Linked DNA regions of Homo sapiens: region 2 is linked to region 1. Evidence: fine-mapped expression QTL. A gene starts in region 1. The other region holds a variant in brackets. All regions are shown on one strand. Distances are between the middles of the regions. Region 1 holds the start of TMEM117 (transmembrane protein 117). Region 2 overlaps TMEM117 (transmembrane protein 117).

What was found. PIP is the estimated chance that this variant, and not a neighbour inherited with it, causes the effect.
Region 2: its variant is the best candidate, but not a certain one, in a credible set for the expression of TMEM117 in whole blood (INTERVAL, PIP 0.55).

Annotation. Positions count from the first base shown.
Region 1 is chr12:43,833,696-43,838,091 of GRCh38, forward strand. It overlaps TMEM117 (transmembrane protein 117), which reads left to right and starts at 2,386. Exons shown (of 8, transcript NM_032256.3): 1 at 2,386-2,501. RefSeq lists silencers at 2,061-2,170, 2,201-2,640, 2,627-2,859.
Region 2 is chr12:43,872,075-43,876,470 of GRCh38, forward strand. The region is part of intron 2 of TMEM117 (transmembrane protein 117); the gene reads left to right. Among named protein-coding and RNA genes, the nearest start is that of TMEM117, 38 kb to the left of the region's middle. The variant GT/G (reference allele first, on the strand shown) is at 1,930.

The DNA of each region.
Region 1 (4,396 bases):
GCAGGATTGCTTGAGCCCAGGAGTTTGAAGTTGCAATGAGCTGTGATTGCACCACTGCACGCCAGCCTGGGTGACAGAGCAAGACTCTGTCTCTTTAAAAAAGAAAAAAAAAATAGGCTGGGCATGGTGGCTCACACCTGTAACCTCAGCACTTTGAGAGGATGAGGTGGGCAGATCACTTGAGCTCAGGAGTTTGAGACCAGCCTGGACAATGTGGCAAAACCCTGTCTCTACAAAAAATACAAAAATTAGCCAGGTGTGGTGGTGTGTGCCTGTTGTCCCATCTACTCTGGAGGCTGAGGTGGGAGGATCACTTGAGCCCAGCAGGTCAAGGCTGCAGTAGGCTATAATTGTGCCACTGCACTCCAGCCTGGGGTACAGAGTGAGACTCTGTCTCAAAGAAAATAGTAGTAATAAAAGAAATAAATTACAGACCTCAGTATTCTGTATAATTTGTGAAGCTTTACTATTTTTCAGTTTTAACTGACTGAAGAGTCCTTGCTTTAAATGGAGATACAAGGAAAATATAGCATATGGAACCTTTGTTAAACAGTTACCCACGTGTAACAGTTTAAAAATTCTTTAGAGAATAATATTAATTACAGTTATAAAAGCACAGTGGAATATAATGACTAATATGTGGAATTAATCCACTATCTATGAGCCATTACTATAACTTACTATGTTAGGTACTAAGGATACAATCATGAGTAAGATTTAATCTCTGCCCTTGAAGAGTTCATAGCGTAGTGGGAGAAAAAAGAAGTTGCAAAAAAGAACAACAAAAGTGTAATAGTAAAATGTACCAAGTGCTAGCATAGGCAACAACTCTTTCTGGCAAAACTTGTTAAAGCATTACAAAAGAGAACCTTACTAGTTAAGAGTTCTGTAAAATGATCACAAATGATTGACTACTATATATCCAGTGGTGTGGGGATGTGGGGGTTCTATTTCTTAAGAAGACAGAAGACAAGCTGCTGAATGACATTTCGGTTCTGATGAACTGAAGCTCATTTTAGTAGACACCCATGTAGTTCAATTGATTATGCAGTGGATTGAGTTCACTCTCATATATATGAGAGGCATATTTATATATATCCATATATACGTGGTCATTTTTGGAAGCTAGAAAAATGTCAAATTAGTGGGAAGTATGGCAGTGAATTCCCAATTATGCCTATGCAGATAAACTACCCTATGGCACTTGGGCATGGCTCTCTCCATCCCATCTTAAAATCCGCGGACATCTCAGTTCTCCCTCTTGCCATCCACCCATTCCTGAATCAGGCTACCAGTACAGGGGAGGGCCTAGCTCTGCCTTCATAAGTTTGCTAATATGGGCATATAGAAATCCTATTTTCCATTTGATTATATACACTAGTGATAACTTCCATTACCACAAAATATTAGCATGCTGGATAGCAGCTGTTAACACGTTTTCAGCAACCGGTAAACTGAGGTAGCAGTTGCTATTAGGTGTGGAAGGAAACAGAGGCCACACATACATGATGGAAAGGAGGTTACATTCAGGAAGAGAGGAATTGGTCAGATGTAGTCAAAGGGTCTTCCTGCCCTATGCCGCAGAGGTATCATTTAGGTATCATAGAATGACAGGCTCCGGAGAGCCTCAGACTGCAAAAACTTTAAAAATTGTACATGAGTATGTGTGCTGATGTACATATGTGTGTATGCATGTGTATACGTGTGCTTATGTGTGTATACATATGTATGCATGAGTGTATTTGTGCATCTCTATGTGTGTATGAATGTGTGTATGTGTGCATATGTGTGTGTGTGTGTGTGATACCAGGCAGGTTGGAAAGTAAGTGGAAGACTTCTCATACTCCTCATGGGCTCTGCCTCTCCCCACCCCCACATCCCCACACCACCAACAGACAAAAACAGAAATCATGTTTTGCGACCTGAGATTGCTTTCGAAAGTTTGTAGCTCTTCGAGGACATTCCAGTGGGACCCTCATTGGTTCCCTGCAGGATGGTGGATTTTCTGTCAGCCGCCCCCCAACCCCCACCAGGTTCCTGAGTCCGTCCCTCGCCTGCAGCTGCCGCTCTGCAGAGGCGGGCCGGCCCGGGCAGGCTCGGCCCGTGGCGCACGCGGCCCGCGGGCTGGAGTCAGCCCGTGGTGCGGGCGAGAGGGCAGGGGCGGGGAGAAGCCATGCCTCCAGCTGCAGAGGTTGCACACAGCTGGCATGATCGCGGTCACCTGCGCGGCGCCGGTGCCCTTGCGCTCGCGTTGCCCGGCCCGCGGCCGCGGACTTTGCGGCGGGAGCGCGGCGCGGTGAAGCACCGGCGCGGAGGGCGCCCGGCGTAGGCGGCGGCGGGTGTGGGCCGAGCCGGTATTTATAGCTCCGTGACAGCAGCAGCGGCAGCGACGCCGCCGGCCCGTCTCGCCGCGCTTCCCAGCGAGGCCGCCGGCGCGCCGAGGGCTGTGCTCGACCGCGAATCCCGTGTGCAGTCGCCCCGCGCCCCGCGCGACCCTTCGGGTGAGTACGTGGGCCCGGGCGTTGGGCGAGCCTCCCCAGCCGTTCGGTCCAGCCGCAGCGGAGCCCTCCCGGCCCTGCCGCCCGTGTCCCGGCTGCCACCTCGTCACTGCCCGCGAGTGCGGAAGCAGCCGCGGAACCCCGGCCCGGCCCCCGAATTCTCCGGCGCCTCTGCTCCTGCCTTCCTGGGGATGGCAGCCAAAGAGGCAGGGTGAAGTGTCAAGGAGGGAGGGGGGACGCGCCAGCCCTCTGGCTAAGGGCAGAGGAGACTCCCGGGCGAAAGGCTCTTGGTGGGAGTCCTCAAACTCCCGGCTCCAGTGTGTGTGCAGAGATACGGCGGGAGAGCAGACCTTGAACTTTCCTTGCTTCAGCGATTCCTAGCCTAGGAACTGAGTAAAAGCCCTATTTTTCTTAATTAAATTAACAGGTTGCAGTTCGTAGGTGTTGTTCTTGGGAAAAAAACAAAGACTTGGGTGTTTGGGTGTTTGCTAACTTCATCGTGACTAAATAAAACTATTTTTTTTCATTCCTATTTTTGAAAATGCCACAGGCCCACAAGTGTGTTCTACCCTCTGTGGAACAATGAAGTATGTGTATGTGTGTGTGGGTGTGCGTGTGTGAGAGAGAGAGAGACACGGGAGTAAACATCACATGCTTATCAGGAACCAAAAAGGAAAAAAAATGAGTAAAAGTATGTTGAATATAAGGGTATGTATTGCCCCCAATTATAAATGATGTATTGTCTGAAATCCAAGGAAGGACTTCTAGGAAGCTACAGGGTTTTGTTTTGGCTTCAGAAACAAGGTCTTCCAATTTATTGAATATAAAAGTAGTTGAATCCCTGTAAACCCCATTTTTTTTTGTAAAGTATTGACATTTGACCATGGATATACTTTCTTTTATCCCCCAAGTCTTTATAGTTTAAAAGTAATTATGGATTTTGACATTTTGTCTCAGGCATTTATCCCTCCTATTCCACCCTCCATCTGATCCGTGTGATGAGAAACTGGCTCTTGTCAGTTTTATCTAAGTTTCTTTAAGCTGTCATTAAAAAATAAACTTTTCACATGAATTCTATTTAATTCATTAAATGTGTTTTTCTTTGGCATTGTGTTTGGAATATGATCATGGCAATTTCTTTTCTTTTCTTTAATTTCTGTCTTTCTTTCTTTCATGGAGTCGGGCTCTGTCGCTCAGGCTGGAGTGCAGTGCCATGATTTCCAGCTCACTGCAACCTCCGCCTCCCGGGTTCAAGGGATTCTCCTGCCTCGGCCTCCTGAGTAGCTGGGATTACAGGCGCGCGCCACCATGCCTGGCTAATTTTTGTATTTTTAGTAGAGATGGGGTTTCACCATGTTGGTCAGGCTGGTCTCGAACTCTTGACTTCGTGATCCGCCCGCCTTGGCCTCCAGAAATGCGGACATTACAGGTGTGAGCCACTGCTCCGGGCTGGCAATTCCTTATTGCAAACAAATCACTGAAAAGGAGGTCTAAACATTTTTAAAGGATATAGTAGTGATTATATTTTAATTTTATAATGTGCTCCGGCTCATAAATATTTTGCCATTTCAATGGAGAGTTTTCTCTGTTCAGAGGACCCCTAGACCTACTTTGCTTTTGGAGTTGCTGTTTTAAAAACTTGCATTGATTAAGCAATTTGTTTACCCAAGGACTGCAGGATAGGAACAAGGGAAGAAAAATCACTTAAAGGTTGAGACAATGTGAAGAGAAAATCTAGGAAGTGATTTATAGATGTAAACCTCTAAATTAGCTAAGGTACCACAAATATTATCCTGGAATCTATCAGAACCACTTATGGTGGTTTTATTGATTGACTTAAAAGGTTGCTTTTTATTTAAAAGCCCCTGTGGTCTTTTGTATTAGACTAAAAGTAAGAA
Region 2 (4,396 bases), 38 kb after region 1:
TTTAATTTGTAGAGATGGGGTCTTGCCTTGTTACTCAGGCCTGTCTTGAATTCCTGGCTTCAAGTAATATTCCTGCATTGGTCTATTCCTGCCTTTTTAGCGGAGTGAGATGTGACTAAGGCATTTCAAAGCACTCTATCTTCAGAACTACCTGCTACCTATCTCAATTGCAGGTTCATTATTTTCTATTTTTGGCTTATATCCTGTAGTAATCAAAGATTGGCTTGAAAACAATATTGGCACAGACCATCATTATGAGCACGAATACTATTCTAAAAATAAATGAAAAAGGCGTCTGTACCTCTAACTACAGAAAAGCTATGATGAAGGCATTTTGACTGTTCGGCCAGTGGAACTCAGTGACATAGCAGGTATTAAGAAATAACTTTTCTGTAAGATACTTTCTTTTGGGCATCTAATTTGCTCATTTTTAGTTGAGAATTTCAAATACTTATTTTTTCAGAGCTTTTGTATGTATTTTAATGTTACCAGAGAATTAGCTTATTCAAGAATGGAAGATCATAAATCATTACATGACATATTGTACAGGAAGACATTGAGCATAATTTGTTGATAATGCCCACTCACAAAGGTATTTTTGAATCTTTCCATCTTCCAGTTATGACAGTTAAGATAATAGTGTGCTTTCCCACTCTACCATCAAGTAGTGTGTCGTGCCTTGTGGTACAAAGAAATTGTCATGAAATAAAATTCAACCAGTCTTTGAATTCTTAATACCTTAATAGCAATATGAAATTTCTGTAAAATCCACAGATTATAGCTTTCTTTTTTCCCCTCTTGATTCTTATTTTGTGGCAAAGAGAGAAAGATAAAAAATGATGATGCAAATGAGATGTTTTATAGCACTGGAAAATATCTTGAAATAAAAGATAAGTCAGACTCTAAAATGTAGGGGCAATATGAGGATGTAGGAAGATCGGTAGAGAATTTCATCAAAGGTGCCATGAGAAATAAAATCTTAGGAAGAGGATGCTCAATAGTGATGGATGCTTGAGGAGAGACAGAGGATTTTGCAAACTGATTAAAGGTGATAGAAATAATAGTTTCTAATTAAAACTGCTTCTAATTAAAACTCCTTTTAATGGAAGGATAATACTTAGTGAATTTGAGTTCTCAAAGTACTGACTTACAGTTTAAATATGAAAGTCTCATTTTTCTTCTAATAGGGTTAGTAGAGTATAATTAGGCAAACTTAAGTGTTGTGCAGCACAGAGATTATTTTAAAAGTTAAGTATTTGAGAATCCACTTTAATCAAAACCTTTTAGTATGTGAGAATATAATTACATTTTACAAATATATTTGAAATTCTCTTTACTATATGATGGAAAGGTATCAAATTCATCCAACATTCAGAGGTTTAGTACCCTAATGACGTTCTTATTTAACAATTAATTTTAATACCAAAATGCAATAAAACACATTTAGCTATCTTCTTGCTTGTCCTGGATATTAATAAAAATCTGAGGCTTATGCTGAGGCAGGAAAACATTCGTTAATTTTATGTCATTAAAAAAAGAAAACTGTACTCACTTTTGTTCTAATCTTAAATTTTGTCTTTCTTTCTGTACAGTTTCTACCTATTTTTACTGTATCTTTCCAGTTAGTTTTAATTTTTTCGTTTTATTTTATTTTATTTTTTCCTTTTATATTTCTCAAAATTTCATTCTGAGAGCCTTTTACCAAGAAGGTTCTCAGAAGAATACTTTGATAAGTTCTCTTAAAGCTTTGCTATTTTATTTTTGTCTTTTGCATTCCTTTTTCTCTACCTTAAAGCTATCTGCATATACTTGTTTTCTCTTTCATTTCTTTTATTCTTCCAACTGCCTTTTGATCATTTATTATTAAAGCCAGTGAGTTATAATTATTTTTTGTTGTAGCTTGCTTTTAATCTGAGCTGAAAAATCCAT[GT/G]TTTTTTTCATTTGTTATATTCTAGTCTTACATTTTAACTCCCTTCTTTTCATTTATTTATTCTGTTCTATTTTCCTATCTTAGTTTTTCCCACATTGGTAATTATTGCTTTTTTTCTCTTTGGACTAGATAAATTTCTTACTTCAGTAACATTGTAGGAAGGAATGAAAATAGTGAAGACAACAAGACATTTAACTTTTGCATTACAATAAATAGGAAGGAATTATGGAACTTTAATTTGTCTCCTCATTTCATGGGTAAGAGGTCAGAAAGTTATATTAAAAAACATATTAAGGCTGGGCATGGTGTCTCATGCCTGTTAGCCCAGCACTTTGGGAGGCCAAGGTGGGTGGATCACTTGAGGTCAGGAGTTTGAGACCAGCCTGGTCAACATGGTGAAACCCCGTCCCTACTAAAAGTACAAAAAAAAAAAAAATTTAGCCAGGCCTGGTGGCAGGCACCTGTAATCCCAGTTACTCAGGAGGCTGAGGCAGGAGAATCGCTTGAACCCAGGAGGCAGAGGTTGCAATGAGCCGAGATTGCGCCACTGCACTCCAGCCTGGGCGACAAGAACAAGACTCCGTCTCAAAAAAGCAAGCAAACAAAAAGCCATATTAAATCCTGGGAGATAGCCTCATATAGTCTATTTTCCCCAACCATTTTGTTAGTCTACACAGGTTCTAGGATAGTTGATCCTGCACTTTTAGCATTCTTTTTAATTTGACATGTTTTTCAGTTTAAGTCCTTTGTCAGTATAGCACAGAATGAGTACTCCGTTTGTATCAGTTGAATTAATTTGAGCTAGTATCTAATGTACTGAGTTCATTACCATTTAAATATGCACTGAAATCCTTCATTTCTGGAAGAGTAATGGGGATATCAAATTAGATCCGCAGGGATGAAGTGAGGCCAGGGTCACTGAAATCCCTCTGGGGATGCAGGTGGGAATTACATTTTCTCACTAATAAATAACATTTGACATTTGATAAGTATTCTTAAGTTCAGGGGAGCTGAACTTGTTCATACAAACTGTGTTAATTATCTTCCGTAAAAAACAGGTTAGCCTCTATAATTTTGAGCTGCAAGTAATAGATACAAGTCGCCCAAAATTATTTTGTAAATGATGTATTTGTAAGAAGTTAAATACAAACAGCTTCTTTACAGCAGTAAGATTTGCTTAAACTCAGGACAGGGGGTTGAAAAGAATGGTGGGGAAGTGTGTGTGTGTGTGTGTGTGTGTGTGTGTGAGAAAAGAGTCAGAATCGGGTAGGGCAACAGGATAAGTAGAAAGGGTTGTGCTAAAGGTGTGCCGGGAGCCATCTGACTTGTACTGGAGATCCAGTAGCTGAATGTCACTATCAACAGTAGTGAGGGCTCAGAACGCTGAAGCAGGTTTACATGATATATTTTTATTTTATTTTTTTGAGATACCTGGAAATCCACATCTGAGCTTTTGGGATATGCTGTTGCTTTTTGCTTTCAGTAGCTTAAGCAATTCAACTTGGCTTATATGTTTCTCATTTGTAATCTAAAAGTCATGCAGGACTGTGTCCAATAAAGTTTCTCTCATAAATTCATTTCTCTATCTCTTGATTATTTTCTTTGCCTTTTCCTCTGACTGTGACTTTGGTTGGATTGATTATCTAGCTGCCTAAAATTCAAAGAATTAAATTTGGGACAGGGCCTAGAACAAAAACCTGTTGGGCTACTTTATTTACTATTGAAAGGAAGAATGACAAATTATCACTCCATTATTGGGCCGGGCTAACAGTGAATAAGGGAAAGAAATCAGAGGCTACTTTACCTTGCACTCATGTCCTACTCACTCTTCTCTCTTCCCCATTATATATTACGTTTTTTTTTCCCCTGGGATGATATGAGTCCACAAGCTTCATCTGGAAAACCCGCATTTAGTCCCACTTGGTCCACTTATTCATATGGAATAATTCTGATGGCTTAAACTTTTAGTCTTCAAAATTGAAAACCTTGTTGGGATAGTTTTGATTGGCTTAGTTCTTTTGAGTAAAATACTTAGTATCTCAGAATTCTTCTTCCTCTCCTCCAAGATGTCATCTGAAGGTACAAGAGAAAAGTGTGCCCTTCATGATCTGCATGGTATCCAGTGGCTCATCCTGTTCTCATGACTTTGTCCTTTCCTTTCCGGTTATTGTTCACCTTGCATTTATGATGAAGAACAACAGCTAGTGTAACTCATGATTTGATTTATCTAGGATTGTTCAGGTGTGGTGGCATTCTCTGGCTGATTTTGCTCTCTGAGTCTCTGTTGTTTCCTAGAGTTGAGACACACCTTCTTGCCATGCGGGGCCCAACCAGACTGTGGGCTTTCAACTTGGTTTCCTCTGATATTGTCTTGTCATTTCTAGGGTCATTCAAGAGCTTAGGTTGATCTTCAAGATGTCGTTTTCTAGGAAACTCAGCTCATATCTAGCTGCCAGATGGAGGATA